Regions from separate parts of the Homo sapiens genome. Here region 1 is linked to region 2. A link means that fine-mapping ties the variant in region 2 to the plasma level of a protein whose gene starts in the linked region. Region 2 holds a variant in brackets. A gene starts in the other region. All regions are shown on their forward strands.

Region 1 (4,382 bases), not on the chromosome of region 2:
CTGAAGAACTGTTAGTAGAAGTTACTCTGAGGGTGCAGCTGAAAAATGGGGGTGTGGAGAGCATCAAGTTTCCTTTTACTTTTTACCTTCCTGTACTTTTTTTAACCACTAGGTATTATCTTTTCTTTCTTTCTTTTTTTTTTAACAATATAAAGTTAATAAAAATACACATTCACATTCAGGAGACAGCAGGGGATGGGAGGTTGCAAGTGAGAAGTGCATGCTGACTGAGGCCAGGTTTTGGAAAGCCATGACTGAAGAGGAGTTCACATTTGACTGGTCTATAGACACCCACTAGAGGTTCCCCAGCAAGGAAGAGACACCGGGAAAGCAGTTTTTGGAAGATTCACCTGACAGATGGGTAGGGGGAGGGAGGAAAGCCCCTTCAAGCCCTCAGGCTACATGTGGTTGCTCCAGATACCGTTTTCCTCTCAAAGCTGTCAAGCTGTCTAAAGTCTGTTTCGACCTGATTTCACTTGGATCCCAATACTGGGAGGGGCCCTGGGAGGAACCTCGTAGGCATTTGGTGAGTCCGCATAGTGCGTCTCACATTGTGTTGGGCCATGGGAGCTGGATAAAAGGAGAAATAAGACCCCGTTCCTGCCTGGAGCAACTCTCTGGCAGTGGAAATGGAGGAAATCTGAGATATACTTCAGAGGAAAAAAATGACAAGCCTGGAGCACAGGCTGGCAAGATTGGATATAGGAAGGAAAGGCCCCCTTGAGTTGGCATAAAGTCTGAGGTTTCTAGCCCAGGAGACTAAAGGCAGGTGGCCACCGCGCTGAGCAAAGCCGGCTGGAAGAAGCTAAAGGTTGAGCTCACTGTCATTAGGAGGCAAGTCCTTCGTGCTGCTCCTGTTTCTGCCAAGGACAGACTGGAGTGGGGACTTTTCCGTAACTAGAACGTAAAAGGGGGAACAGTCCCTCCTCTCCAGCGTCAATTTTTGGCAGCCGACGTCGTCTGCCCCGCTCCTTGAACTCTGACATGCAGACACCTAGAAAGTCAGACACTAAGGTAACAGCCATAAAACGCCGCCCAGAAGGGGGCAGTGACCAAAAGCACGTTCACTGGCCCCTGGGAACCGCCTGGCGCCTGCCTTCTGCAAAGTATCATTCCCGTGTGGGCTGAGCCTGGGGACAAAGGTCCGGCGCTCAGCAGACACCTCCTTGGAACCCGAGGCCTGGAAACGAAGGTCCAGAGTCCCTCATCTTATTCCAAATCCTGGCGCTCGGAATCTAAAACCCTAACTTGATGGCAAGCCAGTCAGAAGGTATTAAAAAAAAAAAAAAAAAAAAAAACAGAAAAATAAATGAGCCCCGACTTCTTGGGCGAAAGGGGGTGGCCTTTCCTCAACCCCACCCGCTGGTGACTCACCTCCCTCCAAACCAGGGCCTGCCCCTCCCGCGCCTAGGGCTGGGCGAGCAGGGCGGGCGGGTACTAAGGTGGGCTCCATCCCCGAGCCCCACGCGGGCGGACAAGCTCCGGCGTGTCCCCTCGGGTGTCCCTGTTTACTCCGAGCCCGGGAGCGAGGTGGGGGCGGGTCCTCGCGGTCCCTCCCCAACCCCGCCCCCTCCTTCGCAGGCCCCAATCCCAGTCCGGTCTTCCAAAGTCTCCAAATCAAAGCTCAGCCTTTCCCTGCACCTTCCCCGCGGACTGGCGGTCCCTGTCCCCACCCCGGGCAGAGGAGGCACCTTCAGGGTTCCCCTAGAAAATCGAGCCTCGGCCCAGACCACTGAGTCCCGGACGCCCCCGGAGGGAGCCTGAAATCCTAGAGTATGACACTGAGTTTCAAAGGGGAGCCGCTCAGCTCTCCGCCCACTGCCCAATCCCACCCTCGACCCCTTCTGCTCTCTGGAGCACCAGGGAGGAGGGCCCAGCCAGGGGAGAGGGCGCCCCAGGCCCCAAACTAGCCAGCGAGTCCCCGGGACCCTCACTCTTGGACCGCTTTCCAGAACTCCGAACCCTGTCGCGGGTCCGCGTCGCCCTCCCCCGGGCAGCGCGTCAAATCGGCGCATGCGCACTCACTGGATTGCCGCGTAGCTCTTTCTCCCCCCACCCACCAACCTTTTTTCTTTCCCCGCCCCTTCCCTCCCTCCCTCCTCAACCCGTCCCCTCCCTCTCCCCCATCAGCCCCCCCCTCGGCACTTCAGTCCGGGGAACAGCGGTGCGAGCTCCAGGCCCATGCACTGAGGAGGCGGAAACAAGGGGAGCCCCCAGAGCTCCATCAAGCCCCCTCCAAAGGCTCCCCTACCCGGTCCACGCCCCCCACCCCCCCTCCCCGCCTCCTCCCAATTGTGCATTTTTGCAGCCGGAGGCGGCTCCGAGATGGGGCTGTGAGCTTCGCCCGGGGAGGGGGAAAGAGCAGCGAGGAGTGAAGCGGGGGGGTGGGGTGAAGGGTTTGGATTTCGGGGCAGGGGGCGCACCCCCGTCAGCAGGCCCTCCCCAAGGGGCTCGGAACTCTACCTCTTCACCCACGCCCCTGGTGCGCTTTGCCGAAGGAAAGAATAAGAACAGAGAAGGAGGAGGGGGAAAGGAGGAAAAGGGGGACCCCCCAACTGGGGGGGGTGAAGGAGAGAAGTAGCAGGACCAGAGGGGAAGGGGCTGCTGCTTGCATCAGCCCACACCATGCTGACCCCGCCGTTGCTCCTGCTGCTGCCCCTGCTCTCAGCTCTGGTCGCGGCGGCTATCGACGGTGAGTGAGATTCCGCGTCCCCCTTGGACCCCTGGGGGCACCCTCTCCCCAGCCCCCACTCCTGCATACGGATGGGGAAGGGAGACGCGGGAGGGGGTGCCTTTTGTTATCCCAGTCCAGCTGACACAGCAGCGGCCCGACTGGGGGCGGGGATGGGGTCCGATTTGGGGGATGGGGGCCCTGGGCAAATGATGCTTCCGGGGCCCCCCAGCACAAACAAAGACCAGAGGCCTGGGTAGAGAGAAGAGGGCTCCCCATTTTTCTGATCCTGGGGAGGAGAGGCCTTCTTTTCCTATCTCTGTTCGGGGAGGGCCTCCGCCTCCCCTACATCCTCACAACCCCCCACCCCCCATCTGAATTGTGAAGGAATCCGGATTTGCAATGTTCGGCTGCAAAAGGGGGTGGGGGTGGGGGGGGTGGCTTTTGCACTGGCCTCTGTAGCTCGAAAGGGGAGCCAGGCCAGGGGTACCCTGCCGGGCAGAGGGCAGGCAGGCCCGGGAAGGCTGTGGGTGGGGAGAGGGAGGGCCCCCTGCTTGGGCGTGGAATCGACCCCAGAGCCCCGGCTGGAGGCCTGGGTGCTGAAGTAGGCTCTTCCCCCTCTCAGGGCCTCTGTCAGTAGCCTGGGGTAGGGCTGTGTTGGGGGGCAGAGAGGGGGAGCTCGCCATACTATGTGACTTTGAATTTTCCTTCTTAATTCCTGGGAGCTTTGAGATGAAAAAACGTCAGATGTCATCACTGGGGAAGGGGACTGGAGAATGGCCTGGAATGCTGGGGTAGGAGGGTGGGGGAGGCTGCCTTCTTCCTGACTTCTGGCTTCATCACAGTTTGGATTGGAAGGAGAGTTGGAGGTTGGATGGGGATTATGGCTGTGCCCCCACACTCCTTTAGTAAATCTGTTTATTCCCTGCACCCCTCCAAGCCCAAAACCCCATACACACACACTTTGTATATTGCAGAGTTAGGCTTAGGCTAGAACTGCATCCTTTTGGGGAAATGGGGTGCCTCTCTTCCCTTTTTTTGTCAGCTGTTTTTTTCTCCTACTTGTGAGTCACTGGTTCAAGTCTTGCCCAAGCTTTAAGCATTAAGCTGGGGTCATGGGGTTGGGCTGGGCTAGGTCCCTGATTTGAGAAGGGGTGGGATCTCATCCCCTCCTGTCATCTTAGCCCTCTCATCCAAAGACAAAACTGGGCTGGATACCATCATACACCCCCTCCTCTGTCTTGCCAGATTGGGATTGGGAAAGTTTTTCTCTGAAACCAGATTATCTCCCTCCCTCTCCCTAACTTGCTTCAATTGGGGGAGGAGACTTACAGGGTCAGGAAGCAGCTGTGTCCCCAAAAAACATATTTAGTGTCCCTCAGTTGTGCCATCTTGGGGACTCTCTACCCCCCACCCCCACCCCACCAATTAGCTGCCCCGGAGGAGGAGAGGGGCTTTTCCTGAATATCCTCCAGATGCCGCACAGCCGGCTTCTGCCTATAACTCCTGTCATTATCATGTGTTTTTCTCTTGTTCTCAGCCCTGTGAGGTGAGAAGGGAAATCGAGGCAGGGAGATTGGGGTTGCAGCCGCTTCTGGGAGGAATAGAAAAAAAATTTGAGAGAGAGAGAGACCCATCAGGAGCCCCTTGAAGGAGGGTGGCTAGAGTTAGGCAGAAGCAAGAGGGTTTCTGTGGAGAGCAGGGAAGGTCA
Region 2 (4,382 bases):
GAGAGTGTTGGTTGGTCTTAATAACATTCTATCTCGGGCCCAGAGGTAGCCCACTGAAGGAGAAATTCAGAGAAGAGAGGTGGGATGGCTGAGACATTTTTGCATAGACCTGCAAGGGGACAGGCCTGACTAAACAAATCTTGCTCCTTAATAGTCAGGACCAAGCCTGTGTTGAACTTAGCAATTTGGTTTCAGCTAATCATCGATCTCTCTCTTTAAAATAATGTTGTTAATTTGAATTTCACCTTTTTTTTTTTTTTTTGAGACAGAGTCTCACTCTGTCGCCCAGGCTGGAGTGCAGTGGTGCCATCTTGGCTCACTGCAAGCTCTGCCTCCCGGGTTCACGCCATTCTCCTGCCTCAGCCTCCCGAGTAGCTGGGACTACAGGCATCCACCACCACGGCTGGCTAATTTTTTTTGTATTTTTCATAGAGGTGGGGTTTCATCGTGTTAGCCAGAACGGTCCCAGTCTTGTGACCTTGTGATCCACCCGCCTCGGCCTTCCAAAGTGCTGGGATTACAGATCTGAGCCACCGTGCCTGGCTGAATTTCACCATTTTAAAAATATTTCACTTTAAACCACCTTGAGTTTTTACATTATATGAAGGCTAAAAGACATATTATGTTGCATTTTAACATTTGCATATGTTTAACAAAAATAGTTTTAGTCTGGTGGGAGATACGGTGAGGGGATGGCACTTTGGGGTAATTGTTTTTTCTTTAAAGGGCCCTGAACTCAAGCATCCTGTCATAAAGAAGACTACTCGGCAAGTAGTCTTAAGTTTCTATCTATTTTTCTGTTTTCAAGGCTGTTTTAGACTCCATTTTGATTATGGGCATTAGCAGTTGTCTTTATTCTCATATATCATATTATTAAAATGTAAGTTGCATTTTACACTAAGGAACTGGGTTCTCCAATAGTTATTATGCCCATAGATTAATCAAGGCATATAGTCCCAACTTAAGCCATTTAAGAGTTTGCTGGCGTAGGCCACCGTGCACGGCGGCCTAGGCCGATCACGCCTGTAATCCCGGCACTTTGGGAGGCCGAGGCGGGTGGATCATGAGGTCAGGAGATCGAGACCATCCTGGCTAACACGGTGAAACCCCGTCTCTACTAAAAATATAAAAAATCAGCTGGGTGTGGTGTTGTGCATCTGTAGTCCCAGCTACTCAGGAGGCTGAGGCAGGAGAATCCCTCTAACCCGGGAGGCTGAGGTTTCAGTGAGCTGAGATGGCGCTACAGCACTCCAGCCTAATGACAGAGCGAGACTCCGTCTTAAAAAAAAAAAAAGAGTTTGCTGGCTGGGCGCAGTGGCTCACTCCTGTAATCCCAGCATTTTGGGAGGCCGAGGCAGATGGGTCACCTGAGGTCAGGAGATTGAGACCAGCCTGGCCAACATGATGAAACCCCATCTCTACTAAAAATACAAAAATTAGTTGGGCTTGGTTGCGGGTGCCTGTAATCCCAGCTACTCAGGAGGCTGAGGCAGGAGAATCGCTTGAACCAGAGAGTTGGAGGTTGCAGTGAGCCGAGATCACGCCACTAAACTCCAGCCTGGCGACAGAGCGAGACTCTGTCTCAAAAACAAAACAAAACAAAAAAAACTCGCTAGTATTTGTCATTATCTTGAATTGTTACCCAATGGTTACTACGCCCATAGATCAATCAAGGCATATAGTCCCAACTTAAACCAGCCATTTAAGAGTTTGCTAGTATTGGTCCTTACCTTGAATGCTTGCCCTGTTGGGTTTTAGGTCATATTAGAAACGTACAGATTTCTTTGCAGTGAACTTCATGAAAGTAGTTGCTAATGTAATTTGTTGGAACTACTCAAA[A/G]TTGCCAGATTGACTTGAGTTAGCCTTACAGAAAGATAAGCTGAGTGGTGATCTTTGGCTTTTTTCCTTTAGCATAATGCTTTTGAGAGTCATCTCTGTTGTTGCATGTAGCAATAGTTAATTCCTTTTATTTCTGGGTAATAATCCATTGTATGGATAAACCACAATTTGTTTATCCATTCATCAATAGAGAGACGTTTGTATTTTCCAGTTTGGGCTGTTATGAGTAGAGCTACTAGGAACATTTGAGTATCAGTCTTTTTTTTTTTGAGATGGAGTTTCGCTCTTGTCACCCAGGCTGGAGTGCAATGGCGCGATCTCGGCTCACCGCAGCCTCCGCCTCCCAAGTTCAAGCGATTCTCCTGCCTCAGTCTCCCAAGTAGCTGAGATTACAGGCATGCACCACCACGCCCAGCTAGTTGTGTATTTTTAGTAGAGACAGGGTTTCTCCATGTTGGTCAGGCTGGTCTCAAACTTACAACCTCAGGTGATCCACTCGCCTCCGCCTCCCAAAGTGCTGGGATTACAGGCATGAGCCACCGTGCCCGGCCGAGTATCAGTCTTTTAAGTGGATGCAATTTACTTCTCTTTGATAAACACCTGGGAGTGGAATTGCTGAGTCCTATAGGGTAAGTGCTTATACTGTTCTGCAGCCACGTATGAGAGGTCCAGTTGATCTTTATCTTTGCCAAGTGCTGGATATTGGCAGTCTTTACTTACAGCCATTCTAGTGGTTTGTAGTGTTATCCTTCATTATGGTTTTAATCTGCATTTTCTATTTATTTATTTATTTATTTATTTGAGACAGAGTCTCACTGTGTCACCCAGGCTGGAGTGCAGTGGCTCAATCTCGGCTCACTGCAGCCTCCACCTCCCAGGTTCAAGCAGTTCTCTTGTCTCAGCCTCCCATGTAGCTGGGACTACAGGCGCCAGCCACCATGCATAGTTAATTTTTTTTTTGTATTTTTAGTGGAAACGGGGTTTCACCATGTTGGTCAGTCTGGTCTTGAACTCCCGACCTCAGGTGATCCACCCGCCTCAGCCTACCAAAGTGCTGGGATTACAGGCGTGAGCCACCACGCCCGGCTTAATCTGCATTTTCTTAACGACTTGTTGAGCATCTTTTCATGTACCTATTTTCCATTTGTATCTCTTTGGAAAAGTGGCTGTTCAGATCTTCTGCTCATTTTTATTGAGTTGTCTTAATGAGTTGTGAGATATTTTTATATAATCTCAATACAAGCCCTTTATTAGACAGGCTTCACAAACATTTTCTCTCAGCGTGTGACTGGCATTTTCATTATACAGCACTGTCCTCTGAAGAGCAAAAGATTTATATTTTGATCAAATCCATTTTTTTTTTTTTTTTGAGACAGTCTCTCGCTCTTTTGTCCAGGCCGGAGTGCAGTGGCACTATCTCGGCTCACTGCAAGCTCCGCCTCCCGGGTTCACACCATTCTCCTGCCTCAGCCTCCCAAGTAGCTGGGACTACAGGCGCCCACCACCATGCCCGGCTAATTTTTTGTATTTTTAGTAGAGACAGGATTTCACCGTGTTAGCCAGGATGGTCTCGTTCTCCTGACCTCGTGTTCCGTCTGTCTCGGCCTCCCAAAGTGCTGGGATTACAGGCGTGAGCCACCGCGCCCGGCTCCAATTTGTGTTTCTAAATGATTTTGTGCCTTTGTGTTCCATGTAAGAAATCTTTGCTACTCAAGGTTATAAAGATTTTTTGCCCTGGCCGGGCCGTGGCTCACGCCTGTAATCCTAGCACTTTGGGAGGCTGAGACGGGTGGGTCACGAGGTCAGGAATTTGAGACCAGCCTGACCAACATGGAGTAACCCTGTCTTTACTAAAAATACAAAAATTAGCCGAGACGGTGGCGTGCACCTGTAATCCTAGCTACTCGGGAGGCTGAGGCAGGAGAATCACTTGAACCCAGGAGGTGGAGGTTGCAGTGAGCCGAGATTGCACCACTGTACTCCAGCCTGGGTGACAGAGTGAGACTCCATCTCAAAACAACAAACAAACAAAAAAGTTTTTTTTGCTTGTTTGTTTTTTTCTGTCTTAATAGTTTTAGCATATACATTTAGGTCTATGAGCCACCTTGAATGAAGCTTTTATCTGTTGTAAGGGTTAAGAGTCATCTTTTTTTGCATACTGATATCCAGTTGTTCAGAACTATTTATTGAAAAGACAATTTTATCTCATTGAATTACCTTGGGACCTTTGTCAAAAATCAGTTGGTTCTGTATGTATGGATCTATTATTGGATGCTGTGTCCCACTTTACATATATTCCTATTCCTTTGCCAGTACCATACTATCCTGATTCTTGAAGCTATTTATAGTAAGTCATGAAATTACATAGATGTCTACCAACTTTCTTCTTTTTCAAAAGTGGTTTGGATATATTAGATCCTTTGCATTGCTATGTAAACTTTAGAGCCAACTTGTCAGTTTCTACAGAAAAGCCTGTTGGGATTTTAACTGGCATTGTGTTGACTCTATAGATCAGTTTGGGGGAGAATTGAAACCTTAACAAT

Alleles and levels. Positions count from the first base shown, and alleles are read on the strand shown. Strength reflects both the effect of a copy and how common the allele is.
For the plasma level of the protein whose gene starts at base 2,144 in region 1, G is the high allele of the variant in region 2 and A is the other (moderate association).

Evidence for each region. PIP is the posterior inclusion probability: the model's chance that the variant is causal. The UK Biobank Pharma Proteomics Project read protein levels with antibody pairs (Olink). The fine-mapping took linkage between variants from a reference panel, not from the people measured, so its PIPs are less certain.
Region 1: it holds the start of LRP1, and the variant in region 2 is fine-mapped to the plasma level of the LRP1 protein (UK Biobank, PIP above 0.99).

Annotation. Positions count from the first base shown.
Region 1 is chr12:57,126,340-57,130,721 of GRCh38, forward strand. It overlaps LRP1 (LDL receptor related protein 1), which reads left to right and starts at 2,144. Exons shown (of 89, transcript NM_002332.3): 1 at 2,144-2,692. The coding sequence starts at 2,626. RefSeq lists an enhancer at 1,151-1,804.
Region 2 is chr4:2,608,647-2,613,028 of GRCh38, forward strand. All of the region lies in intron 2 of FAM193A (family with sequence similarity 193 member A), which reads left to right. Among named protein-coding and RNA genes, the nearest start is that of FAM193A, 74 kb to the left of the region's middle. The variant A/G (reference allele first, on the strand shown) is at 1,840.